Homo sapiens: one gene and its partner. Changing the gene in region 1 together with any one later gene gives a genetic interaction. Each region holds a gene or a part of one and is shown in the gene's direction. Other genes may lie near its edges. The genes, in order: ITLN1 and BCL2.

Region 1 (7,619 bases):
TGGTGGCATGTGCCTGTAGTCTCAGCTACTCAGGAGGCAGAGGTGGGAGTATCGCTTGAGCCCAGGAGGTCAAGGCTGCAATTAGCCATGATTGTACCACTGCACCCCAGCCTGGGTGACAGAGCAAGACCATGTCTCAAAAAAAAAAAAAAAAAAAAAATCGAATATTTGTCTTGGACCTAGATACAGTCTATTTCCTTTTGTTAATATATCTGAAAATATATAGTTCAATATTTTCTCTCCACAAATAAAGTATTAGCTTAACAAATATGGTGCCTCATAAACCTTTTCTTAAGAACTGCTGTGAGAAACATGTAAACAGTGAAAAGGTCATGTTATCGTGTTAAGATAATAATGGGCATAAGGGATGTGGCAACACCGGGCAGGAAGTGATCCATCCCATTGTTGAGGGAGAAGAGGCATGAGTGACATTTATGCTCAGGAAATTGAGGAGTGACACTGGGACAGAAATGGCAAAGCAGGTATTGAAGCATCAGAGGAAGTTTGTCCTGGATCAGTGATTCCAAAATGTAGTCTGGGGGCCAGTGCTACTCTAGAATGACCCCCCACCAAAAGAGTGTTTTCATTGGTTTGTAGCAAAATGAGAAAAGTAAGAAAAAATATTATTTTTCATAAAACTAAATTTATTCAAGCTGAAAATTTATATTTATTTTGATACTTTGTCTTTCCTGTGCTGTCATTGAGATATATATATATCTTACAAATATATATATATCTCACAAATATATATATATTTGTGAAATCAGTTGTATTTCTATATATAAGCATCAAACAATTAGAAAATAAAATTTCAAAAATATGGCATTTATAATAGCATCAAAAATGTCAAACACTGCCAGCATGGTGGCTCACGCCTGTAATCCCAACACTTTGGAAGGCCAAGGGTGTGAGGATTGCTTGAGCCCAGGAGTTTGAGACCAGCTTGGGCAACATAGTGAGATCCCATCTCTACAAAAAATAAAACAATTAGTTGGCCGTGGTGATATTTACCTGTGTTCTCAGCTACTTAGGAGGCTGAGGTGGGAGAATCACTTGCCTGGGTGACAGAGTGAGACCCTGTCTAAAAAAAGAAAAAAAAAGTCAAATACTAAGGAACAAATAGCAAATCATACACAAAATCCCTATAAGGAAGCTATAAGATACGAAAAAGCAATAAAAACACAAATAAATGAAGAAACAGGCCACACTCAATATTTTAAAGACGTAAATTATTTCTAAATGATCTATAGATTCAATGTAATTCCAATAAAATCCTAAAGGGTGTGTGCATGTGTGTGTGTGTGTGTGTGTGTGTGTGTGTGTGTGTATGTGTAGAGGTAAACGACCAAGAATAACCAAAAAAGAAGAGCAAAGTGAGAAGCCTTGCTCTACTGGATATCAAGACATTTTATCAATCTAAAATATTTGGAACAATGTGGTATGGGCACAAGGAAGTGCTGATTTCCATCACAGTCAGGCCAGTAATTACCTTTGGGAAGGGAGAGGTCTGTTATCTGGAAGCAGCATATGGGAAGCTTCTGGGTGCTGCTAAAGTTTCATTTCTTAGCTAGGATGATAATTACACAGGTATTTGCCTTTCTTGTAATTTATTAAACTGCACATTTAATGTTTTATATCTTTCTCTGTATGTGTAATTTTACAACAAACCTTCTCCAAGTCACTGGAGATGTAGATGTGGGGCTGGAGTGAGTTGGTGGTGAGGGGCTTTCTTCCACACTCTTCTATCTTCATGCACATCTATACTGTCACATACGTACCTATACTCTCAGCACTTTGGGAGGCTGAGGCAGGATTGTTTGTGCCTAGGAGTTCGAGACCAGCCTGGCCAACATGGTGAGAACTCGTTTCTACCAAAAATACAAAAGTTAGCAGGGTGTGGTGGTGTGTGCCTGTATTCCCAGGTGCTTGGGAGGCTGAGGTGGGAGGATCACCTGAGCCTGGAAGGTTGAGGCTGCAGTAAGCTGAGATTGTGTCACTGCACTCCATCCAGCCTGGGCAACAGAGTGAGACCCTGTCTCAACATAAATAAATAAATAAAATAAAATAAAGAGAAGCTGCTGTCAAGCAAGCCTGGATCTTGCCCTCTCTCTCGATTTTCTATTTCATGAGGTAATAGATTTACTTTTTAGAAAAGCCACTTTGAGATGGGGTTTCTATTAGTTACAGCTACAAGGAACCAGACTGAACTAAATAAATGTCCAGGGCAGTGGGGTTTGGAGGAAGTTGTGTGGGGAACAGATTCAAGAGGAAGTAGGGGTAGAATCAATGGGACGCAATCACTGATTGGATGATGATGGTTAGAAGGGGTAATGTCCTTAAAATGGATGTACTGTTTTCCCAGTCTATTAGATGGCATCATGTACCATTAAGGATGAGATGCATAATGATATTAAAGATGTCAAAATACAAAAAAAGTGTCTTAGAATCAACTAAAGAAAGTAGTATAAGTGTATATTTTCTTTTTTTATTTTTGCAAATATGTTACTGTTTTATTAAGCCATAAAGTTTTCAGGTGGTTAGTTACACACAGTAATGAACAACTGAGGGGATGTTTAATTTTTTTCTCTAGATCTTGGGCCCTTGGTGTTAACTTTATATACATGTATTTACTATTGTGAACTGTAAACTTAGAGACCTCTATTTTTTTTTTTTTTTTTTGAGATGGAATTTCACTCTTGTTGCCCAGGCTGGAGTGCAATGGTGCGATCTCAGCTCACTGCAACCTCTGCCTCCCGGGTTCAAGCAATTCTCCTGCCTCAGCCTCCCGAGTAGCTTGGATTACAGGCGCCTGACACCGTGCCCAGCTAATTTTATATTTTTAGTAGAGACACGGTTTCACCGTGTTGATCAGGCTGGTCTTGAACTCCTGACCTCAAGTGATTGGCCACCCTCGTCCCCTCAAAGTGCTGGGATTACAGGTGTAAGCCGCAGCGCCTGGCTGAGACCTCTATTTCTAAGAGGTTGTTGTTTGTAAATATGAAAGCTGGGTATGTTCATTTTGTTACCTATACTGATGAGTTAATTTAGTTTCTAATACATTTAATTTTATTTAATTAATTATTTTCCAGATACACAGAGCAAATAGCTTCTAATAGATTTTAAATTTACAAAAGTATAACTTTTTTTTGCAGTTTTTCTTCTTGGGTGCTATTTTATTTTCTTCTATCAATATGTGAGTATTTTTTGCAAATCAGTACTTTGAACCAACAAATAGGAAATATTAGCTTAACAAAAAAGATATTCACAATCTTTGTAAGAAAAGGTTGCAGTATTATTAATGCTATAATGACATTATGTATTAAATGTATGATATCACTGGGGAAGAACTGAGTAATTCTATTACAGCTGCAGGGTAGCATTTGAGAACTTCATGACATAGGAGCAGGAATAAGACAGGAGGTTCGAAGCAGCAGAGAGGTTTCGTATTGATTCAGTTTCAAATGAATCCTGTAGTAAATTTTCCCTCGTTTGTGGCAAAATGACAAAATTAAAGACAAAGTAGTGAGTCTTTGTGTGAAACTAAATTATTCAAACTAAAGATTTATATATTTTTTAAAACTTTTCTATTCGTATTTTTTTGTGTGTTTTGTATCTCTTTCCCCTCCATTCCTTTTTACCAATTTATTCAGAAATGATCACTTTCCCATTTTGTTAAAATTTCCTTTTTCTATTTCTATGAATTGATAATTATGGCCAATGATTAATTTCATTTATTTATTTATTTTGAGATACCTAAGCTGAAGTACAGTGGCACGGTCATATTTCACTGAATCCTCTATCTCTGGGACTTAAGTTACCCTTTTGCCTTGCCTCAGCCCCACCTGAAACTATAGGCAAGTACCACCATGCCATGCTAATTTTTTTACTTTTATTTTTAGTAGAGAAGAGGTTGCCCTATGTTGCCCAGGCTGGTCTCAAACTCCTGAGTTCAAGTGATCCTTCTGCCTTGGCCTCCCAAAGTATTGGGATTTGAGCCAATGTGCCAAGCCAACAGATGCTTAATTTAGAGAAAGTTTTTATTTTGCAAGAAAGAAAGGCACAAAAACCCAAAACCAACACCAACTCTTGTTAATCTCTTCGTCTACTTCCTACTTGACACAGGTCCATGAAACCCCCAGATCCAGGAACAACGCTAGCAGGTGATTCTTAGGATTGGTTTTTTCTTTAGAACCTGTTAATTCCACTGTATAAATAACCTCCCCGAGATAACCAGAAGCCTCCCCTGCACTGGGCATTGTGCCAGGGGAGGGTGAGGCTGGAAACCTTGGTTGGCCCCACTGGGCTTCCTCCATAAAGCTTTCTGCACCTCATTCCACATCAGGAGCGTTTTTGGAGAAAGCTGCACTCTGTTGAGCTCCAGGGCGCAGTGGAGGGAGGGAGTGAAGGAGCTCTCTGTACCCAAGGAAAGTGCAGCTGAGACTCAGACAAGGTCTGTGAGTTGGGGGAATCCTGTTTTCAGCTTAGGTCTGCTTTTGGTCTCAGAGATGTGTGAAGTTTAAACAAAAGGCAAGGGGTTTTGGAGTCTTTGTAAGACTGGACAGGGGTGGGGCAGGGATGTAGAGAAAAATGATGGCCAAGATGGTGACCTTCATCTTGCTTTCTTTAGATTACAATGAACCAACTCAGCTTCCTGCTGTTTCTCATAGCGACCACCAGAGGATGGAGTACAGGTGAGTCACGCTGCTAGGGACAGCAGTTCCTTCAGCTGGATGACTTCCGGGATCCTGGTCTCTCCCAGGACACAGAGCATGTCCTTGAGATGCACAGCGGCTGGCTTGCATGTAGACTGAGTGCCGATTTCTGGTCTCTGGCGGAATCTGGCCTGTGGCAGTGAAGGTATTGCTTGAGGCATGTCCTGGGTCCAGGCTCTGTGCTTTTGTGTGGCCCTGAGGGGGCTGTGGCAAGAACTGTGTCACCTTCCAGCCACTGCCCACTCCTGTGGCCTTGGCTGTGGGATTTCCATGGGAACTACATGGTCTGCTTTGTGCCTGGAGAATGTTCTCTCCACAGTTTTCCTCTCTACAACAAGAATAACAATGACATTTTAAAATTTATATTTTTCTTCACGTCTAAAAATTTTTTTTTTAAAGAAAAGGCTGTTTCGAAATATCTTCTTACTTCATCTTTGCAAAAGCACTGTTTATTAACTGTGTTTTAGGTATGAGGAAACTGAGGTCAGTCACCTCTGACCTCACAGCTTTCCCCTAGACTGTTCGAATAGTTTGCAGACTTTTTGGAGTAGAGATTAGTCTCACCACTCCCTACTTCACACCCCATGTTTCAGCCATATTAAGCAGCTTGTAGTTCTACAGCTGGACTACGCTGTATTTTTTTTTTTTTCTCTAGGCCTTTGGATATGCTGTTTTCCCTGCCTTGGATTGGCTTCCTACTGATAAATCATGTTTATTCTCTCAGAATAAGCTAAGATGTCACCTGGACTGGAAGGTCTTCTGTGACTAAGACATGAGACAACCCGTCTTGCCTTCTTCTCCCAGGCAACTGCCCCGCTTACTGTCTGGCGTTTCCATTCTCCACTGTTACCTCAGAGTCTTTCTTTTGTTCTCTTGAGTTTGCCTTTCTTCTACCATTTATTCTTGTCAATACAATTTTCTGTTGACTTGTTAGCAATTCCCTCTAGAGGCAAGCTCTTGCTGGGGAACTTTAATGTCTTTGATTACTCAGTGCTTAGGGCAGGACCCAGCACAAGGACAGGTCTTGTGGCGGGAGGCAGACTTTAAGCCTGTGCTGGCTGTCAGGTCGGATGGGCTGAGTGGATATGATGCCGATGGGCTGAGTGGATGTGACACTGATGGGCTGAGTGGATATGACACTGGCTGTCTCAGGCCTTACCACCCGGGCAGCGAGGTTCTGCTACAGTGGTGGAATGAGCGTGGGACTAGTGATAGGAGAGGGTAGGTTTTGTGTCAAACCGGGAATGAGAATAAACCCTGTGTATTCCCTAGATGAGGCTAATACTTACTTCAAGGAATGGACCTGTTCTTCGTCTCCATCTCTGCCCAGAAGCTGCAAGGAAATCAAAGACGAATGTCCTAGTGCATTTGGTGAGTGATGAAACATTCAAACAGAGCTCAGTCAGGGTATCAGGATTGTGTCTTCTGGGAGTCTTTTTGTCTTTTAGTTAAAAAATTATGGTAAAGTATATGTATATTATAATTTACATAAGATTTGCCATTTTAAGCAACATTAAGTGTGCAATTCAGTGGCATTAATTACCTTCAAGGTTGTGCAACCATCACAGCTATCCATATGCAGAACTTTTTCAGTGCCCCAAACAGAAACTCTGTACTTAATAACATGGAGGGGCCGGGTGCGGTGGCTCAGGCCTGTAATCCCAGCACTTTAGGAGGCTGAGAGGGGTGGATCAGTTGAGGCCAGGAGTTTGAAACCAGCTTGGCTAACATGGTGGGGCCCTGTCTCTACTAAAATACAAAAATCAATTGGGTGTGGAGTACATGTTTGTAATTCCAGCTACTTGGGAGGCTGAGGTGGGAGGATCGCTTGAACTCAGGAGGCAGAGGTTGCAGTGGGCCAAGATAGTGCCACTTCACTCCAGCCTGGGCAACAGAGTGAGACTCCATCTCAAAAACAAAAACAAAAACAAAACAAAACAAAAAATAACATGGAGTTATTAAGCAATAACTCTCTTCCCTCAGTCTCTGGTAGCTGCATTTTACTTTCTATCTCCATGAATTTGCCTAGTGTAGTTACCTCATGTAATTGGAGTCATATGGTATTTGTCCTTTGGTGTCTGGCTTATTTCACTTAGCACAGTGTTTTGAGGGTTTGTCCATGCTGTAGCATGGATATTTCATTCCCTTTTATCCACTGCAGATACATATATGCACACACACCATGTTTTGTTTATTCATTCACCTGTTGGTGAATATTTGAATTGTTTCTTCTATTTGGCTCTTGTGACTAATGCTGCAATGAACACTGGTGTAAAAGCATCAGCTTGAGGCCCTGTTTTCAATTCTTTTGGGGATAGACCTGCAGTGGAATTGCTGGGTCATACAATAATTCCATGTTTAACTTTATGAAAAATGTCACTGGGATTTTATACAATTCTATGTTCTGCCTCAGTTACAGGAGCATGATCTTCTGAACTCAGGGAGGCCCCAGTACCCCTGGGAGCACTTAGTGATGTGAGTCAGGACAGGAGCCTTTAGGCCATGTCTCTGGTTCCTAGGGCCTTTCTTGTCATGGGGCTGAAATGAACCCTCAGCTCTCAGACAGGGAGGCTCTGGGCTGGTTCTCTCTACAGATGGCCTGTATTTTCTCCGCACTGAGAATGGTGTTATCTACCAGACCTTCTGTGACATGACCTCTGGGGGTGGCGGCTGGACCCTGGTGGCCAGCGTGCACGAGAATGACATGCGTGGGAAGTGCACGGTGGGCGATCGCTGGTCCAGTCAGCAGGGCAGCAAAGCAGTCTACCCAGAGGGGGACGGCAACTGGGCCAACTACAACACCTTTGGATCTGCAGAGGCGGCCACGAGCGATGACTACAAGGTTGGTGCCACTTCTTACCCACTCGGGTGAGGGTGAGGAGTGGAGTGTGGCTGGCCACAAGCCTG
Region 2 (5,214 bases), on another chromosome or scaffold:
GGTGGGAGGAAAAGAGTTGGGAACTTCAGATGGACCTAGTACCCACTGAGATTTCCACGCCGAAGGACAGCGATGGGAAAAATGCCCTTAAATCATAGGAAAGTATTTTTTTAAGCTACCAATTGTGCCGAGAAAAGCATTTTAGCAATTTATACAATATCATCCAGTACCTTAAGCCCTGATTGTGTATATTCATATATTTTGGATACGCACCCCCCAACTCCCAATACTGGCTCTGTCTGAGTAAGAAACAGAATCCTCTGGAACTTGAGGAAGTGAACATTTCGGTGACTTCCGCATCAGGAAGGCTAGAGTTACCCAGAGCATCAGGCCGCCACAAGTGCCTGCTTTTAGGAGACCGAAGTCCGCAGAACCTGCCTGTGTCCCAGCTTGGAGGCCTGGTCCTGGAACTGAGCCGGGGCCCTCACTGGCCTCCTCCAGGGATGATCAACAGGGCAGTGTGGTCTCCGAATGTCTGGAAGCTGATGGAGCTCAGAATTCCACTGTCAAGAAAGAGCAGTAGAGGGGTGTGGCTGGGCCTGTCACCCTGGGGCCCTCCAGGTAGGCCCGTTTTCACGTGGAGCATGGGAGCCACGACCCTTCTTAAGACATGTATCACTGTAGAGGGAAGGAACAGAGGCCCTGGGCCCTTCCTATCAGAAGGACATGGTGAAGGCTGGGAACGTGAGGAGAGGCAATGGCCACGGCCCATTTTGGCTGTAGCACATGGCACGTTGGCTGTGTGGCCTTGGCCCACCTGTGAGTTTAAAGCAAGGCTTTAAATGACTTTGGAGAGGGTCACAAATCCTAAAAGAAGCATTGAAGTGAGGTGTCATGGATTAATTGACCCCTGTCTATGGAATTACATGTAAAACATTATCTTGTCACTGTAGTTTGGTTTTATTTGAAAACCTGACAAAAAAAAAGTTCCAGGTGTGGAATATGGGGGTTATCTGTACATCCTGGGGCATTAAAAAAAAAATCAATGGTGGGGAACTATAAAGAAGTAACAAAAGAAGTGACATCTTCAGCAAATAAACTAGGAAATTTTTTTTTCTTCCAGTTTAGAATCAGCCTTGAAACATTGATGGAATAACTCTGTGGCATTATTGCATTATATACCATTTATCTGTATTAACTTTGGAATGTACTCTGTTCAATGTTTAATGCTGTGGTTGATATTTCGAAAGCTGCTTTAAAAAAATACATGCATCTCAGCGTTTTTTTGTTTTTAATTGTATTTAGTTATGGCCTATACACTATTTGTGAGCAAAGGTGATCGTTTTCTGTTTGAGATTTTTATCTCTTGATTCTTCAAAAGCATTCTGAGAAGGTGAGATAAGCCCTGAGTCTCAGCTACCTAAGAAAAACCTGGATGTCACTGGCCACTGAGGAGCTTTGTTTCAACCAAGTCATGTGCATTTCCACGTCAACAGAATTGTTTATTGTGACAGTTATATCTGTTGTCCCTTTGACCTTGTTTCTTGAAGGTTTCCTCGTCCCTGGGCAATTCCGCATTTAATTCATGGTATTCAGGATTACATGCATGTTTGGTTAAACCCATGAGATTCATTCAGTTAAAAATCCAGATGGCAAATGACCAGCAGATTCAAATCTATGGTGGTTTGACCTTTAGAGAGTTGCTTTACGTGGCCTGTTTCAACACAGACCCACCCAGAGCCCTCCTGCCCTCCTTCCGCGGGGGCTTTCTCATGGCTGTCCTTCAGGGTCTTCCTGAAATGCAGTGGTGCTTACGCTCCACCAAGAAAGCAGGAAACCTGTGGTATGAAGCCAGACCTCCCCGGCGGGCCTCAGGGAACAGAATGATCAGACCTTTGAATGATTCTAATTTTTAAGCAAAATATTATTTTATGAAAGGTTTACATTGTCAAAGTGATGAATATGGAATATCCAATCCTGTGCTGCTATCCTGCCAAAATCATTTTAATGGAGTCAGTTTGCAGTATGCTCCACGTGGTAAGATCCTCCAAGCTGCTTTAGAAGTAACAATGAAGAACGTGGACGTTTTTAATATAAAGCCTGTTTTGTCTTTTGTTGTTGTTCAAACGGGATTCACAGAGTATTTGAAAAATGTATATATATTAAGAGGTCACGGGGGCTAATTGCTGGCTGGCTGCCTTTTGCTGTGGGGTTTTGTTACCTGGTTTTAATAACAGTAAATGTGCCCAGCCTCTTGGCCCCAGAACTGTACAGTATTGTGGCTGCACTTGCTCTAAGAGTAGTTGATGTTGCATTTTCCTTATTGTTAAAAACATGTTAGAAGCAATGAATGTATATAAAAGCCTCAACTAGTCATTTTTTTCTCCTCTTCTTTTTTTTCATTATATCTAATTATTTTGCAGTTGGGCAACAGAGAACCATCCCTATTTTGTATTGAAGAGGGATTCACATCTGCATCTTAACTGCTCTTTATGAATGAAAAAACAGTCCTCTGTATGTACTCCTCTTTACACTGGCCAGGGTCAGAGTTAAATAGAGTATATGCACTTTCCAAATTGGGGACAAGGGCTCTAAAAAAAGCCCCAAAAGGAGAAGAACATCTGAGAACCTCCTCGGCCCTCCCAGTCCCTCGCTGCACAAATACTCCGCAAGAGAGGCCAGAATGACAGCTGACAGGGTCTATGGCCATCGGGTCGTCTCCGAAGATTTGGCAGGGGCAGAAAACTCTGGCAGGCTTAAGATTTGGAATAAAGTCACAGAATTAAGGAAGCACCTCAATTTAGTTCAAACAAGACGCCAACATTCTCTCCACAGCTCACTTACCTCTCTGTGTTCAGATGTGGCCTTCCATTTATATGTGATCTTTGTTTTATTAGTAAATGCTTATCATCTAAAGATGTAGCTCTGGCCCAGTGGGAAAAATTAGGAAGTGATTATAAATCGAGAGGAGTTATAATAATCAAGATTAAATGTAAATAATCAGGGCAATCCCAACACATGTCTAGCTTTCACCTCCAGGATCTATTGAGTGAACAGAATTGCAAATAGTCTCTATTTGTAATTGAACTTATCCTAAAACAAATAGTTTATAAATGTGAACTTAAACTCTAATTAATTCCAACTGTACTTTTAAGGCAGTGGCTGTTTTTAGACTTTCTTATCACTTATAGTTAGTAATGTACACCTACTCTATCAGAGAAAAACAGGAAAGGCTCGAAATACAAGCCATTCTAAGGAAATTAGGGAGTCAGTTGAAATTCTATTCTGATCTTATTCTGTGGTGTCTTTTGCAGCCCAGACAAATGTGGTTACACACTTTTTAAGAAATACAATTCTACATTGTCAAGCTTATGAAGGTTCCAATCAGATCTTTATTGTTATTCAATTTGGATCTTTCAGGGATTTTTTTTTTAAATTATTATGGGACAAAGGACATTTGTTGGAGGGGTGGGAGGGAGGAAGAATTTTTAAATGTAAAACATTCCCAAGTTTGGATCAGGGAGTTGGAAGTTTTCAGAATAACCAGAACTAAGGGTATGAAGGACCTGTATTGGGGTCGATGTGATGCCTCTGCGAAGAACCTTGTGTGACAAATGAGAAACATTTTGAAGTTTGTGGTACGACCTTTAGATTCCAGAGACATCAGCATGGCTCAAAGTGCAGCTCCGTTTGGCAGTGCAATGGTATAAATTTCAAGCTGGATATGTCTAATGGGTATTTAAACAATAAATGTGCAGTTTTAACTAACAGGATATTTAATGACAACCTTCTGGTTGGTAGGGACATCTGTTTCTAAATGTTTATTATGTACAATACAGAAAAAAATTTTATAAAATTAAGCAATGTGAAACTGAATTGGAGAGTGATAATACAAGTCCTTTAGTCTTACCCAGTGAATCATTCTGTTCCATGTCTTTGGACAACCATGACCTTGGACAATCATGAAATATGCATCTCACTGGATGCAAAGAAAATCAGATGGAGCATGAATGGTACTGTACCGGTTCATCTGGACTGCCCCAGAAAAATAACTTCAAGCAAACATCCTATCAACAACAAGGTTGTTCTGCATACCAAGCTGAGCACAGAAGATGGGAACACTGGTGGAGGATGGAAAGGCTCGCTCAATCAAGAAAATTCTGAGACTATTAATAAATAAGACTGTAGTGTAGATACTGAGTAAATCCATGCACCTAAACCTTTTGGAAAATCTGCCGTGGGCCCTCCAGATAGCTCATTTCATTAAGTTTTTCCCTCCAAGGTAGAATTTGCAAGAGTGACAGTGGATTGCATTTCTTTTGGGGAAGCTTTCTTTTGGTGGTTTTGTTTATTATACCTTCTTAAGTTTTCAACCAAGGTTTGCTTTTGTTTTGAGTTACTGGGGTTATTTTTGTTTTAAATAAAAATAAGTGTACAATAAGTGTTTTTGTATTGAAAGCTTTTGTTATCAAGATTTTCATACTTTTACCTTCCATGGCTCTTTTTAAGATTGATACTTTTAAGAGGTGGCTGATATTCTGCAACACTGTACACATAAAAAATACGGTAAGGATACTTTACATGGTTAAGGTAAAGTAAGTCTCCAGTTGGCCACCATTAGCTATAATGGCACTTTGTTTGTGTTGTTGGAAAAAGTCACATTGCCATTAAACTTTCCTTGTCTGTCTAGTTAATATTGTGAAGAAAAATAAAGTACAGTGTGAGATACTGGTTGTGCCTGGAATTGTTTATAATGTGTTAACATGATTTTGCCCTGCCATTCATCATCATTACACAAGACTTTGAAAAGCCTTCTTAACAAGCCAGTAAAATCACCAGGACCCTACTCTAATGAAGCCCTCAGGGACCAGGCTAAGGGATTGCCTTACAGGTGAAACCACCTTAGAAGGAGACTCTTGTTTCTTGGTAATAACCCTCCTGGTTAGGTACAAGATAGACCAGTCTTGAGTTCTACTCCCTGGGAGAGCTACTGTTGCTGTTGAGTGTGTTCTTCCATATAGACCAGAGATCCCAGCCTCTGCATTTTATAAGATGAAATGTGTATGAAAAAGAGGGAAATAAGCTGAAAGTTCTGTTTTGAAGTCAACATTTTTAGATGGAACCAAAGCAGCTACTTGCTTTGGAGCAGGTGAACCCTAAATGGCAAGGGATCTGATGTTTCCCACTGGGTTCAGGTCCTGATACCCTAATCCTCAACCCTTCAAGTCACATCACTTAGACTCAATTAAAAGGACTCTGATAGTAGCATTCATC

The links.
Region 2: of ITLN1 (region 1) and BCL2, extra expression of one rescues a mutant of the other (dosage rescue), as found in Homo sapiens cells (one study listed by BioGRID).

What each region holds. Positions count from the first base shown.
Region 1 is NC_000001.11:160,881,892-160,889,510, reverse strand, and holds the start of ITLN1 (intelectin-1 precursor), read left to right. Parts: upstream 1-4,330; 5' UTR 4,331-4,450; intron 4,451-4,627; 5' UTR 4,628-4,633; coding exon 4,634-4,691; intron 4,692-5,984; coding exon 5,985-6,083; intron 6,084-7,306; coding exon 7,307-7,554; intron 7,555-7,619. UniProt on the Homo sapiens protein: Lectin that specifically recognizes microbial carbohydrate chains in a calcium-dependent manner.
Region 2 is NC_000018.10:63,122,803-63,128,016, reverse strand, and holds the end of BCL2 (apoptosis regulator Bcl-2), read left to right. Parts: 3' UTR 1-4,671; downstream 4,672-5,214. UniProt on the Homo sapiens protein: Suppresses apoptosis in a variety of cell systems including factor-dependent lymphohematopoietic and neural cells. Regulates cell death by controlling the mitochondrial membrane permeability. Appears to function in a feedback loop system with caspases.